Linked DNA regions of Homo sapiens. The protein of the gene in region 4 interacts with the protein of the main gene of each other region in a biochemical or structural test. Each region holds a gene or a part of one and is shown on either strand. Other genes may lie near its edges.

Evidence for each region. The genes of interacting proteins can lie anywhere in the genome.
Region 1: the proteins of HTRA3 (region 4) and TRMT13 interact in a test that uses a peptide from one of them, tested with the Homo sapiens proteins (one large-scale study listed by IntAct).
Region 2: the proteins of HTRA3 (region 4) and TMEM151B interact in a test that uses a peptide from one of them, tested with the Homo sapiens proteins (one large-scale study listed by IntAct).
Region 3: the proteins of HTRA3 (region 4) and KCNT2 interact in a test that uses a peptide from one of them, tested with the Homo sapiens proteins (one large-scale study listed by IntAct).

Annotation. Positions count from the first base shown.
Region 1 is NC_000001.11:100,139,663-100,143,162, reverse strand, and holds part of TRMT13 (tRNA:m(4)X modification enzyme TRM13 homolog), read right to left. Parts: coding exon 3,452-3,500; intron 2,982-3,451; coding exon 2,912-2,981; intron 2,756-2,911; coding exon 2,649-2,755; intron 2,312-2,648; coding exon 2,144-2,311; intron 27-2,143; coding exon 1-26. UniProt on the Homo sapiens protein: tRNA methylase which 2'-O-methylates cytidine(4) in tRNA(Pro) and tRNA(Gly)(GCC), and adenosine(4) in tRNA(His).
Region 2 is NC_000006.12:44,273,450-44,276,696, reverse strand, and holds part of TMEM151B (transmembrane protein 151B), read right to left. Parts: coding exon 3,191-3,247; intron 1,295-3,190; coding exon 170-1,294; 3' UTR 1-169.
Region 3 is NC_000001.11:196,423,441-196,426,940, forward strand, and holds part of KCNT2 (potassium channel subfamily T member 2), read right to left. Parts: intron 2,549-3,500; coding exon 2,412-2,548; intron 1-2,411. UniProt on the Homo sapiens protein: Sodium-activated and chloride-activated potassium channel. Produces rapidly activating outward rectifier K(+) currents. Contributes to regulate neuronal excitability.
Region 4 is NC_000004.12:8,290,254-8,293,753, reverse strand, and holds part of HTRA3 (serine protease HTRA3 isoform 1 precursor), read right to left. Parts: intron 2,385-3,500; coding exon 2,190-2,384; intron 1,434-2,189; coding exon 1,401-1,433; intron 1-1,400. UniProt on the Homo sapiens protein: Serine protease that cleaves beta-casein/CSN2 as well as several extracellular matrix (ECM) proteoglycans such as decorin/DCN, biglycan/BGN and fibronectin/FN1.

The sequences.
Region 1 (3,500 bases), on a different chromosome or scaffold from region 4:
TTTTTCTTTCTGTGTTTTCCATCCACCTGCACAAACAGAACATTATTGTAATAATCACTTCTTACATTTAAAAAAGCTTTATGAAAATAAAAAGATTTTTATTGGTTTTCAAAATTCAGAGCAACAGAACATATTTAAAAATTAAGATTGTACATTCTTTGATGAGAACTTCAAAATATCACACTTTTTAAAAAAGATTTGAAAATGTTTATCAATTATTACATAGACATTATTTCCTTTAACCCTAAAAATTCCCAATTCACTGACAAAGGAACTGAAGTTCACAGATCTTAAGTGATTTATCTAAGATTGTCTACTAGCTCCTTTATCTTTGTCACTCCTGGTGTACTATTTTTGGTTCGCTCCTCTTCTTGCTCTCCTGAAAGATCACAACCATTCTAATCTATACCTATGTGCCCACGACCGGCTGATCTACATTTGTGGCTCAGGCCTCTCCAATGGGCATCAGACACATACTCAATTGTGAACTAGAAAGCTCTACTTCACCAGCAAACTGGACACATTCAGAACTGAACTCATTATTTCTGTCTCCAAAACCATCCTTCCTCTTGTGCCTCCTTCATTCCTTATCTCAGGAAAGAACACCACTTAGTCACCTAAGCCATAAAAATCCTACCGAGAATTACTCCTTATCTCTCATATTCAATTACTAACAAATCACCAACTCTTGTGGCTTCCAACATCTTAATATTTCTCATACTCTTGCCCTCCTCTCCATCCCAATGCAATAGCTTTAGCTCTGGCCTCTTTCTTACTTGGATTGTTGGACAAAAATTATCTTTATTATTAATCTCTCTAAGTATCAGACTCTTCTAATATAGTTTTAATGGTGCTGCTAGGATAAACTTTGAAAAATTTCCTTCTACTTTACCAACTCTTACATATTATTTCAATCTCATCTCAACTGTCACTTCTGCAAAAACTTCTATGACCCACACTAGACTGAGGTTGGTGCTCTATCTTCATGCTCCCATAGGATTGGGTACTTACCACTATCAAAACACACTTAGCATACTGAACACAAATATTTATATGTCTACTCCACTAGACGTAAGCTTCCTCAAAGCCAAGAACTAAATCTTTTTTCTATTGTATCCCCACCAGACAGCAGCATAGTCAAACTCCTTCCTTAGCATAAAATATGAGACCTTCTATAGGCTAGCCATCCTCTCCAGTCCCATCATTGCTGAACTCTACTTTGCACCATGTACTCCCATTATACAGGAATGTTTCCATATTTTCCTGTTATTTCAGGTATTTGGTTACACTGTTCTTGCTTCCTAGAATGCTTCTCAAACTCTCTAACAAACACCAATTCACCTTTCAAGATTTAGTTCAAGCATCACCTTTTCTACATAGTCATTCTCCATCTCTTCCCTGCAATAGAACTTGTCACTCCCTTCTTTGAAACCATGCTGTACTCTGTGCAGACCTTTCTCGTATTTTAACACTTCACTACAATCATTTATGTATTTGCCTGGGTCTCTTTTCTAAATATAAGTAATAAAGTGGCTGGGCACAGTGGCTCACACTTGTAATTCCAGCACTTTGGAAGGGTAAGGTGGGAGGATGGCTTAAGCTCAGGAGTTCGACACCAGCCTGGGCGACAAAGTGAGACCCTGTCTCCACAAAAAATTTTAAAAAATTACCTGGGCATGGTGGCGTGGGACTATAGTCCCAGCTACTCATGAGGCTGAAATGGGAGGATTATATGAGCCCAGGAGGTCAAGGCTGCAGTGAGCCACGATCCTGCCACTGTACTTCAGCCTGGGTGGGGCCTGGCAGTATGCTCAAAAATTGTTTAATGAATGAAGGGCAAGTGGCAAAGATAGGAGTAGAGCCCAAGACTTTTAACTCCTAGCTTGAGCTTGGCTCTTTCTATATATTTTCCTGTCTCTGCAAATAATTTTAAGAATTCAGATCAATGGACTATCAAAACTTAGATTAAAAAATTCACCTTCAGTTTGAGTTATCAATACAATTAGAACTAATAAAAAGCTACAACAAACAGATAAAGAAAATTCCTTTCCTTTCTTTTAAGAAATGTTTCTATCACTTTTTTCCTGAATACAAAAAATGAAAACAAGTTTGGTTACTAACACAGAGCAATGGTTTCACTTACCTTGAATCTTGTGGTCACCTTTTCCACTAGGATGAAGTGAACTTTTTCAGCATCTTTTAAGGCAATATCAACCCAATGAGATAATTTTCCCTTTCCCGCTCCAAACTCAACAAAGCATCTTCTTGGACCAAGTAACTTTAAATTTTCAATGTTACCTAAAATAGAAGCCTGCAAACTTCACAAGATTATTTTATAAACTAGAGTAAACACATTTGGTTCAAATGGGAAAACAGCAAGGTAATTTCTGCATAAGGCAGTATGCTTACATTGATAATTTGTATTTGACTTAAAATTTTTCTCTCTTGCCTTTAAATATTTAATATACGGTACTCAGAATCACATCCATGCCCTCAATTTTTTGTATATGTTTCTATATATTTTTGAAATGGAAATATTTGGTACCCTCAAAGGTAAACAAAATAAAATCTTATTAATAATTACATTTAAAACAGTTTTAACAAATGAACAAAGGCCATGTTTAGTAGTTACTATAGCCTAAACATACCTGCTGTTTCAGGTGCTTGGTTGCAGAATCGCCATTTTTAGGGTCATTAAGTGCATCGTGTAATGCTGGATGGGACATAATATGATCTTTAAGTGTAGAATTCAAGCCTGTGCCAAATATAAGCACAACAGCTTAAGCAGCCAAACATGTAATTGTAGGATTCTGAACAATAGTAGTAACATATTTTAAACCAGAATGGTATCAACTCATATACCACCTAATTACTCTAAAATAATTGAACTTGCAACTTTAGGCAGTCTTACCTTCACTTGCTTTTCTCAATTTCTTAATTAACTTTTCCAACTGCTCTTCAGATAGAGAAGAAATTGGAACCTATATACAAAAATAAAACTAAATAATGTAGCCAAAAATTGCTTTAAAGTAGCATAACAGAGACTGAGTAGAGGTTTACCAACTGGGCAAATCCCATGACAGCTTAGGCTCTTCTCTCTATCAAGCCTTTTCCCTAAGCTGCCATCAGAATTGTCCAACTGCTAAATTTCTACTCCGTCTTTGCTGTGCTACTTTAATTTTCCTAACTTCCTCAAGGTCAAGAACAAGTCTAGGCTCAGAAGGGTTCAAGAATCAAAGGGGATTCAGGGCCATATTGTAGCTTCTTTTGTTATGGGGCATGAGCTGGTCTGGGTCTAGGAACTAACCATCACTAACAATATTAAGTCTACAGGAAAATGCATTCTAAATTAAAAACAGACTTGAGACAAAAATTAGAACATGCCTTATTCACATCATGAAGAGAGCTTATAAATATCTTTTAAAATTAAATATTAAGTCAATGTACTTACTAATTGTTCAGGTATTTCTGTTTCATCTCTTAAGCCTGCATTAATATCT
Region 2 (3,247 bases), on a different chromosome or scaffold from region 4:
GACAGCGGGGGTCTCGGCCCCATCCGGGCCTGTCTTGCGGCCCTCACCTCCCTTTCCCTGCCCCCCGCGCGGCCTCAGTCACCGTGGTGACTCGCCCTGCGTCGCAGAGGGAGCACAGTCCGGCGAGGGGCAGGCGGGAGGACGGCGCGGGCCACTCCGGGGCCGGAGGTCACAGTGAGGTCTCTACGCAGGAGCCGTGGCGGTGCAGCGGCCGGTGGCTGTGGCCCAGACACCCCTCCTGCCGGTGGACGATGAGGACCGGAAAGTAGAGGGCGTCGTGGTAGGGCGGCGGCGGCCCGGCCTCCTCCTCGTCGTCGTCCTCGTCGTCCCCCATGCTGGCCTGGCTGGACAGCCGCGTCTGCTCCGTGGGGCAGCTGGCCTCGTTGACGCTCCCGCTGCGGCTGCGCCACAGGCAGCTGCGCCGGGAGCCGTAGAGACGGCCCAGCGAGAAGCGGCTGCCCCCGCAGCCCGCGCCCCCACCGGGCCCCGGGCCGGCCCGCGGGCTGGCGCAGATGCTTAGGGCGCTGCGCGAGAAGATAGACGAGCTGCTGACGGCGCGCTGGCAGTGCTCGCAGCTGCGCCGGTAGGGAGCCACGCCCGCCGCGCCCGGGCCGCCTACCCCACCGTAGCGGCACGAGGGCGCGTAGCCGCCGCCTGCCCCGCCGCAGCGCGTCCCGAGCCCCGCCAGGTCCATGAGCACCGCCTCAGAGTAGCTGGGCACCAGCTGCTGGTTGGAGCGGATGTGCCACTCGAGCTCCGTGCTGTCTACTGTGTTGACCCGCGGCAGGCGGTGGGTGAGCGGGGGCAGCAGCTCATCGCTGGGGCTGAGGCCACCGCCTGCGCTGCTGGCCGAGCCCGGGCCCTCCAGGCCAAATAGCTTCTCCACGTGGTAGTGCGCGTAGGCCGTGCGGTACTCGGCCAGCACTCGCAGCGGCCACGACAGCGTGAGCAGCGCCGCGGCCCAGAAGGCCGACGAGCAGGCGTACCAGGGCGGCCGGGCCGGGTCCGGGAAGGCCACCATGAACTCACGGAAGTCCACGTTCTTGAGGTGCATGCCCTCGCGTGCCTCCATGTAGTCGTCTAGGCCCTCGTTCTCTGCGAAGAAGCGCGCGCGCTGGCACAGGTACGCGTTCTCGGCCTCCACGCTGGCGAAACTGAAGCACTTGGTGAAGCGCAGCCGCGTGGCCGGCGCGCCCTCCAGCCCCACCAGCGTCTTGGACACGTCGCGAACGCCGCAGCGCGCGTAGTCGAACTCAGCCTCCGCCACGTGCGTGTTGACGCGTTCGTGGTAGACCTGCGGCGCGGGGGGCAGGCGGCGGGGTCGCGGGGAGCCCGTCATTGGTGCCCGCTTCTGCCCACTCACCCTTTCCCGCCCCATCTGTGCTCTGGTTGCCTGGTCGGACCCTAAGTCTGTCTTGGTTTAGGTGCCGGCTGGAGCTGGTTAGGATCTTTCCGTCTGACTTACAGGGCAACTGACGCCCTCTGTGTAATCAGACGTGATGACCGGACTAGAACCAGCCCTACCTGTGCGCATTTAAATTTTTTTTCTTTTTCTTTTTCTTTTTTTTTTTTTTTTTTTGAGATGGAGTCTGGCTCTGTCGCCCAGGCTGGAGTGCAGTGGCGCCATCTCGGCTCACTGCAAGCTCCGCCTCCCGGGTTCATGCCATGCTCCCGCCTCAGCCTCCCGAGTAGCTGGGACTACAGGCGCCCACTACCACGCCAGGCTAATTTTTTGTGTTTTTAGTAGAGACGGGGTTTCACTATGTTGGCCAGAATGGTCTCGATCTCTTGACCTCGTGATCCACCCGCCTCGGCCTCCCAAAGTGCTGGGACTACAGGCATGAGCCACCGCCCCCGGCCGCGCATTTAAATTTTAACTAAGCCCTGCTTCCTCTAGGGGTCAGGCCCTGGCCATGAACTGCCCCTCTGGCCTGCCTGATCCATTTGCCACTGCCTCTGTTTTCCAAAGTGCCCCCACATCACCACAAACAGCCTCCTCTTCTTCTTTCTTCCCTTTTACAATTGTGTTTCCCAATGGGTTCCCCAGAAGCACTCCCTAAAGAACCCCTCTATCTCTAGTCTGCCTGTTCACGCTGTAGCTATCATCAGCCTCCTTCCTGCTTCTCACCCGCCCCAGGCTTCTGTCTATTGATCCTTATACTGAGACAGATGGCCTGCATCTGGGAACGTCTCCTCCAGGACCCCAATATGTCTCATCCTGGCGAGTCCACAAAGTGCTGATTGACCTGCCCACCCTCAGTGAGACTTCCTACGCCCACCTCCTCTTAGACCCTTGAACTTGACATCCAGGAAGCTGGGATTGAGCCTAGCACTACCACTTAAGAGCAGCAGACTTTGGACAAGTCACTGAGTTTAGGTGTCCATACCTGTGAAAGAACTCAGTAGCAGTCACCTCACTGAACAGGTAAGAGCATGCTATGATACTGGGCATGTGAAGCCATCTCCAGCCATTAAGCACTATTTTTATTTTTATTTTTTTTTTTGAGATGGGGTCTTGCACTGTGGCAATCACAGCTCACTACAGCCTCAACTGCCCAGGCTCAAGCGATTCTCCCACCTCAGTTTCCTGAGTAGCCGGGACTACAGGTGCATACCACCACACCAGCTACTTCTTTTTATTATTTATAGAGATGGGGTCTTACTATGTTGCTGCCGGGTGGGCTGGTCTCAAACTCCTGGCTCAAGAGATCCTTCTGCCTCACCAAAGTGCTGAGGTTACAGGCCTGAGCCACCACACTCTGCCATTAATCACTAAGTAGATCCATTAAGCACTAAACAGTATAGAGATCCTGGAGCCAGATTGATTGAGTTCAAGTCTCATCTCCACCACATACTGCCTATTTGACCTTAGACACATTACTTAAACTCTCCAGGCCTCAGTTTCCTCATCTGCAAAATGGGAATACCTGCCTACATCATAGGGTTGTTATGAGGGTTAAATAAATGATTTGATGTGTGTAAAATACTTAGAGCAGAGCCTGGCTCCTGGTCGGTTTTTGCTGTTATGATTATGGTTGTTGCTATTGCCCTGCTGTTGCAATGCTCATGGGAGCTCACTGCTGCCTTTTGCTCCTCCCACCTTCCCCCCAGGGAGGTGGGGAGGGAGTGAGGCAGCACGTAAGTGCCACCTCCCATGTTGAATGTCCTGCACTCCCCACCAGCTCCTCACCTGGGTGGTGGTATAGGCGTCTCCATTGCGGTATCTGGTGACCTGGCGGGTGCGGCG
Region 3 (3,500 bases), on a different chromosome or scaffold from region 4:
ATGATTAATAGTATTTTAACTGTAATGTCTGAATCAAACTAAGAGGGGTGGAATACAGCTCCTCTGTATTCATAAGTAAAACTCTAGTTTGTATTTATACTTCCTGGAGATCATTCATCATCTTTTTCCAAGCCCCTTCCCCTCATACTAGGGTTCAATATTTCTTAAGTTTAGTGATAAAGACACAGTATATTTTAGTGTTTGATACATGATGTTCTAAGAGCACAAGAATGTTTATTTTCAAAATGAGGAATCATTTATCTCTGTGGTTCTCTGTGATAAAGTAAATATTTTCCAAAAAAAAAAATGGTTTCTATGGGGAGGAAATATAAAAGTCCTTGAAATAAGACCAAACCAAACAGTTCTGGGAAAATGTTGCACCATGGTTATTAAGATAATATGAGTGTTGGATAACTTTCTTTAAACACCATTTTCAACTAAACAATTCAAAACTCATGTAACTAACCTATGAAACTTGTTTGGAGAATCCTACTCCATGCTCTATGCATGAGGAATTGCACTGAAAAATGTATTAGTTTATATTAAATCCCAAATATTTTATAGGAAGCTAAGATTGGAAATGAACATAAAAATGGATACTGCGTCACTCTAACTTGTTTTTTTAAATAGCTTTTAGAGTATGACCAGATAGCTACCTCTCTCTCTCCTTCATTCCCTTCCCTTTTCTTTTATCACATGGAGGAATTCTTCTTGTAAATATGGTCGCTTTTACCAAGACATCATTTTAAGACTATTGGTAATAAATTAGTTACATTAATCCTAAATAGTATATAGCTTAGATACTAATAGCTAATACCAATAACTCAGATAAATTTGTTAGATGGAAAGAAGCCTCCATGTATTACACAAATTCATATTGAACATAATATGAATGTTATTCATGTTTATTGTGTGAAGAACTTAACTATCATACAATAAATTAAGAATATTGATTATCTACACCAATGAATACAATGATCTAGATTACAGTAGTATCTAAGCATCTATTTCTCTAGCACACCCAAATAATGAGTATAGATAGCAAACAGTAAACACCTAAAGCCAGGGTTTACCTGAGGTGCTGGGAAAATCTGATGACTTAAAGAACTGTCACATGTACAATGACCACAAATATAAAGTATTTAATCCACCAAAAAGATGAAAATACTCACAAAGAAATGTAATTTTCCAATTAGATAACACTCATTATATCCTGCTAGTTTCTCGTGCTGTTTTTTTTTCAGAAGTTGAATCATTGAAAAAAAACTCCATTAAATCGACTTTATTATATATAAATCAAAGGTAACATCAGAGTTCCTGACTAGGTATCTAGTCATCATTTGAAGGATTATGCAGCACAAAGGAGTCCAGAAGTCTGTTCCACAAAACAGTTGACTTTTCTTCTGTTCTTTTCCAACACCCACTAGACAGACACACACACACACATACACACACACTTGCACACACAGTGAAGACAGGCACAAATACACACCCGCTCATGCACACTCAGGTTATCCAGGAAAGAAAAAAAAAAGTATAAAGCACTTATGCTATTCAATTCAGTGGGAGACTTTTAAATCTAGAAGAGTATGCAGGACAACTCAAGGGTAAACATGAAGATATGTTTAAAACTTTAAAAACAGCAGAAAATATTGAGCAAAACCACTTTTGTTGAAGATACCTTCTGGCATCTGAAACTAAGGAGACTGTTTTGCAGAAACTCTGTTTCTGTGGTGTCCACGCTATGCTCAATAATACTCTCACTCTACTCATATGATACAACTTGGTAACTTGTGACAAATGTTTAAGACTATGTCACCTTTAAGACAAATTGCCTGGTACATGCACAAAAAGAAGAGGGTAGCTGAGGGTAGCTAAGTAAGTCCTGTCACCTTTCTGATTCCTCTAGTCCATGGCAACCATTTTTTCTCTGACCCCAGGCAACACAAGTGCTATGTGTCCAATACATAGTGCAAGCTCTTTAAAATGTAAACCCTAACTCACACTGCACTGGTATGTCACACCATATTTAGCCCACAATTTTTATATGTGGGATAAAAACAGTATTCGGGGATTTGGAGACTACTCTAACAGTGAGTCTGGATACCTCAGTGAATCTCTGACAGCTTAAGATAATTATTCTGGGCCACTTTTTTCATTGTGCTGTGTGGTCACAGTCTTCTGAACAGTTTTGCCTTGAGATGAGGCTGAAAAAGAGGAGTAAACACACTGATTTTATGATATATTTTTGACCTTTTAGTTTGGCCAGCAGAGGGACTAAGGCAAGAGTCTATACTCAAACATACTTTAACACATCTTGCAACACTGAAAATTGCTAAAATTTGGAGGAAAGAGAAAATATTAAGTCACTCAAAACTGTAAGCTGCAAGATGAAAGGCAGGGATACCTACTTTGCTCTCAATAGGTCTTGATCTTTAAGGGCTGAACCTTGAAGGTAGATAACTCGTTGGGACCACATTGGAATCTGCAGTACCCTTCGAACCTGTACATCCATTTCAGTAGGACACAAAATCACCACATAATAATCCTATTCAAAACAAAATGGGCAATGGAATAGAAACAAAAATGTTTTATGTTACACTACATAGAAAAATAAAATATCTAAGAAAAATTTGAAATATGATAAAACTGAAATGAACTTTTGCTAATAAAATTTCACATTTAAAACCTGGACATATATTAAATAGCAATTACACTATAATAAATACAACTGGGACATACACAAATCTCATAAATCAATAAATTCATCTCAACTTATTTCAGTCTTACTAAGACCATAAGGGAAGGTAATCAGTGGTTATACCTGGCACACACTTTCAGCTTGTGAAGGTTTTAGTTTTATCTACAGACTGATCCTAAAATATACATTGAACACCAGGCAGAAGCATTTAAGTATCAATTCATACTTCATTACTTTTAGGATCAAAATTGTGATAGCGATTTATATCATTTAGCTATATAATTATGAAACAATAATTTTGAACAGTTTCTGATGAATATTTGAATGAATAAGGATCCATAAAAACACTGAAAATACTGACAAAGTAAATTAAATGAACATGATATCAAAATATTACAAAATATATGGTCCTTTGGAGAAAATTACATCTGAGTGGTGAAACAGTTTAAACCAATGATTTATAGAAATTAAAATTCTCTGGTAAACATTCACCATTTTACTGCTGTAAAATATATCTACTAGGAATTTCTGGAGTTTAAATAATTCTCTACATTGATACTAGATAAAGTTAATGACTGTATGATATGGTTTGGATTTGCGTCCCTGTCCAAACCTCATGTTAAATTATAATTCCAAATGTTAAGAGAGGGGCCTGATGGGAGATGACTGAATCACGGTGGCAGATTTCCCCCTTGCTGTTCTCCTGATAGTGAGTATGTATCACCACCCTCTTCCTCCTGCTCTGGCCATGTGAAGACACACCTGCTTCCCTTTCGCATTACACGTGACCATAAGTTTC
Region 4 (3,500 bases):
AGAGGGAGGAACATGGTAAGGCCTGTCGGGGACAGAGACCCTGTCTATCCCTACCTTCCAGAAGTGGGGGGCTGGCAGGTGGGACCAGGGGAGCTCCTTGACCCCCCCATCCCTCTCTTTGGAGACCCTCCAAACCTGCCCTGCCCCCCATGAGGCTGGTACCACTTGGGCAGGATCTGACCTGGCCCCTGGGGACCTCACACTCAGGCACACTCCTGGAAAGGAGCCCCACCCCACAGCCTGGCTTATACCCCTAGCCCTGCCCTCCCTGTCAGGGCCTGGCCAGCTCACCAGGGATCCCTCTGGGGCCTGGGGCAGAGCTTTGGGTCAAGGCACCCTTTGTCCTCCTGGTCCCTGGAAGCTCAGGAGGCAGGAAGAGCATCCGAGTGTGAGATCCAGTAGATTGAGTTCTGTGTCCACCCTCGGCCCTCTGTGCCCATCTCTACTGCCTGGACCATGCGGAGCAGCCTCCTGGGCCTGGCTTTCTGGCCTCCAGCCTAAACCACACACACGAGCTTCCTTGAAACCAGGGCACGGCCTCAGCCCTGCCAAAAGCCTGGGAGACATCTTGGGCACATAGGGTGAAGCCCCATCTGCACACGAGGCCTGAGGCAGCAGGACATGGGCCACCAGCCCCTTTCATTGTCCCCTTGTCTGACCTCCCCCTCCCTAAGCCTCTGAGAGCCTCCTGCAATGCTCATGTTGTGCCTTCTCCCTGGGATTTCTTCTTCCTGTACCCAGTCCTCCTCAATCTCGATGGCTGTTGTATAATGCTCTCACCTCCAGGAAGCCCTCCCTGATCTCACATCAGCTGCCAGGTCTTCCTGCCCAGCGTCCCTCCAGAGCTATCTCATGTGGCTCACATGGTGCTTGGGCTTGTTCACATCTGGACACCTCCCCAGCCATGGATAGGAGCTTCAGGGGTGGGACCGTCCGATCCTTCAGGGCCTAGGAGCTCTGAACTGAGCTTCCTGGTTTATTCTGGAAAAATCTCACCTGGGATGAGGCTGAGCTTGACTTTGAGGCTCAAGACACAACTGGGAAGGGGAGAATGAGGGTGCCCCTGTCATCCTGTGTGTACATCCAGGGCAGGGAGGGCTGAGGTGAGCAGCCCCACACCTGCGTCTCCCTTGCCCCAGCTCCCCTGACAGGCACATGGCCCTGGACTGAGCTGCTGCTCATGGGTGAGTCCTCATTCCTGGTGGCCACTAGCATCCCCGAGGCGCTTGGGGCAGCCTTGGTCTTTCCTCCTTCCAGGCCTCCGGCCCAGCTGCACTCCCGACTGTTGGTGTAAATGTTCTAGGACCATATTGTGGGCCCTGTCCCACCTCAAGGCTGAGCACCCCCATGTGAGAAGAACCCCAGAAACCTGAGAGATTTTGGCTCTAGGGGACACTTACCAGGTTCACCAGTGGTCCCCCGGAGTTCCCGTACTGCAAGGGGAGGAAACAGCATTAGCTGTGCCTGACCCCGCCTGAGGCTTCCTGGAGCCCCTTCTCCAGATCTGCCTCTAACCAGTGCAGAGACACATAAGCAGGTCTCATCCTCAGCAGCATCGAAAGGCCTCAGTGCTGCCCCCATTTCACAGATAAGAAGGCCATGTGGATGGCTGCCTGATGACCGAGGTCTGACTGTCACTGTTCTCTGCACAAACCATACGCTTCGGCATCTACACCCCGGAGGCCAGGCAGCACCGCCTGGTGCATGGAGAATGGGGGTATTACTTCCCATCCTGCTGGCCTGGGGGGGCCCTCTACAAAGACTCGGATTCCAGCCAAGTGCCTGAGCTGCGGCAAAGCTGGATGGACGTGATCTGGGGCATCTGGGTGAAGTGCTTTGTGAATGCTAAACGTGCCACCAACATAATCACAATAATAATGAAAAGCAATGTTGGCCAGGGTGTGTAAGCTGGGCAAAGGTGTTTGCGGGCTGTGGCCATGCCTCTGTTTCTCTGAAAGGCTGCCCGAGCGAGGACAGCAGCCTCTGACTCCCAGCGTGCCTGGCACCCTGGGGTGGAAGTCACAGGGTTAGAGCTCCACCGAATGTAAAGAGAGAACTTTCTAGCAAGTGGATGTGTCGAGTGCCAGAATGGCTCTGGGGAGGGGGGCAAGCCGAGTCAGAGACCACCTCGAGGTTGAGGTCTTGGGCACAGATGGCAGGTGCCCCGGCCTCCTGTCCCTGGGACTCACGTTGATGATGGCATCCGTCTGGATGTAGTCCATGTCGGAGTCCCGGAGGCCCAGCTCCCTGCCCTCCCGCTGGGCAGTGCTGACGATGCCCGTTGTCACTGTGTTCTGTAGGGCGAAGGGACTGCCGATGGCCACCACAAACTCCCCAGGCCGCAGGTCGGCCGAGTGACCCAGCAACAACACAGGGAGCTTTTTCTAGGAGAGAGAAGGAGAAGACACAGAGAGGGAGGCTTAGCCGTCTACCTTCAGCGGGGACCGGAGTCAGATCCTGGCAGGGGGGTCCCAGGGAAGGCATGCACATCTGTGCAAAGCCACCAGGACTGTGAAGGCTCAGGCAGGTCACCAGTGCAGACCAAGACCAGGGCAGTCCTGTGCTGAGACCCAGGGCTGGAGTACACGGAACAGAGGCTCAGCTGTGCCAGGGACCAGAGGTTCCCCCAGGGCAGGCATGGGTGCTCATCATGTGCAGCTGAGCACAGCCTCCAAGGTCGTTGAGCCCAATGATCTGATGGTCACATGGCCTCTAAAAATCTGGTAAAAGCTGCAGACACCTGGTAAAAACTACTACACCATATGCACCACACACAAACTGATGCATTTGATGGAGAGAGATCTGCAGACAACTGGAGCCCAGCTAAGGACTCTGACATCCTTGATCCAGTTCCATCTCATCTCCCAGTAGAGACACACGGGGGAACTCAGGCCTGGAGAAGTGAAGCCACTAGCCGAGCTCCACCCCACGCCGCGCACACTGAGACACCTGCACACCCCTCTTCTGCTTTTGCGCGGGCCCAGCGGAGCCTGTCTGTCTGATTATCTGACTCTGCAACTAGCCTGGCAGCAAGGAGAACAGCCAAGCTCTGTGTTCCAGAAGCTGCGTGGTGCACACTCTGAGAAGGTAATCCCGGGTGCTTGTTAGAAGGTGCCGAAGCGCACACACACACACGATAAATTGGGGAAGGCGGTTCTGTGCTCGTACCCACATCAACTTCCTGGTTCTGGTTTTGCACCCATTACCTAAGATGTCACCGTTGAGGGAAGCTGGCGGAAAGTCTCCTGGGACCTTGTGGCACTACCCTGTAGCTTCCCGTGGATCTGCGATCGGCCAGGTCTCAAGAGCATTGCCCCAACTTAGGAGATCAGTGGGGCAGGACCCCATGCCTCTGACCCTCTGGATGGCTCCCCTCCACCAGGCCACTGGTCCTTCTCATCGTTTCAGTCCTCTTCCCTTTTATTATACACCATCATGTCAAATAAGAAAGTTTCTCTTTGCAGCTTTCAATACGAGGAGAAAGCTGTCAATAATGGGGA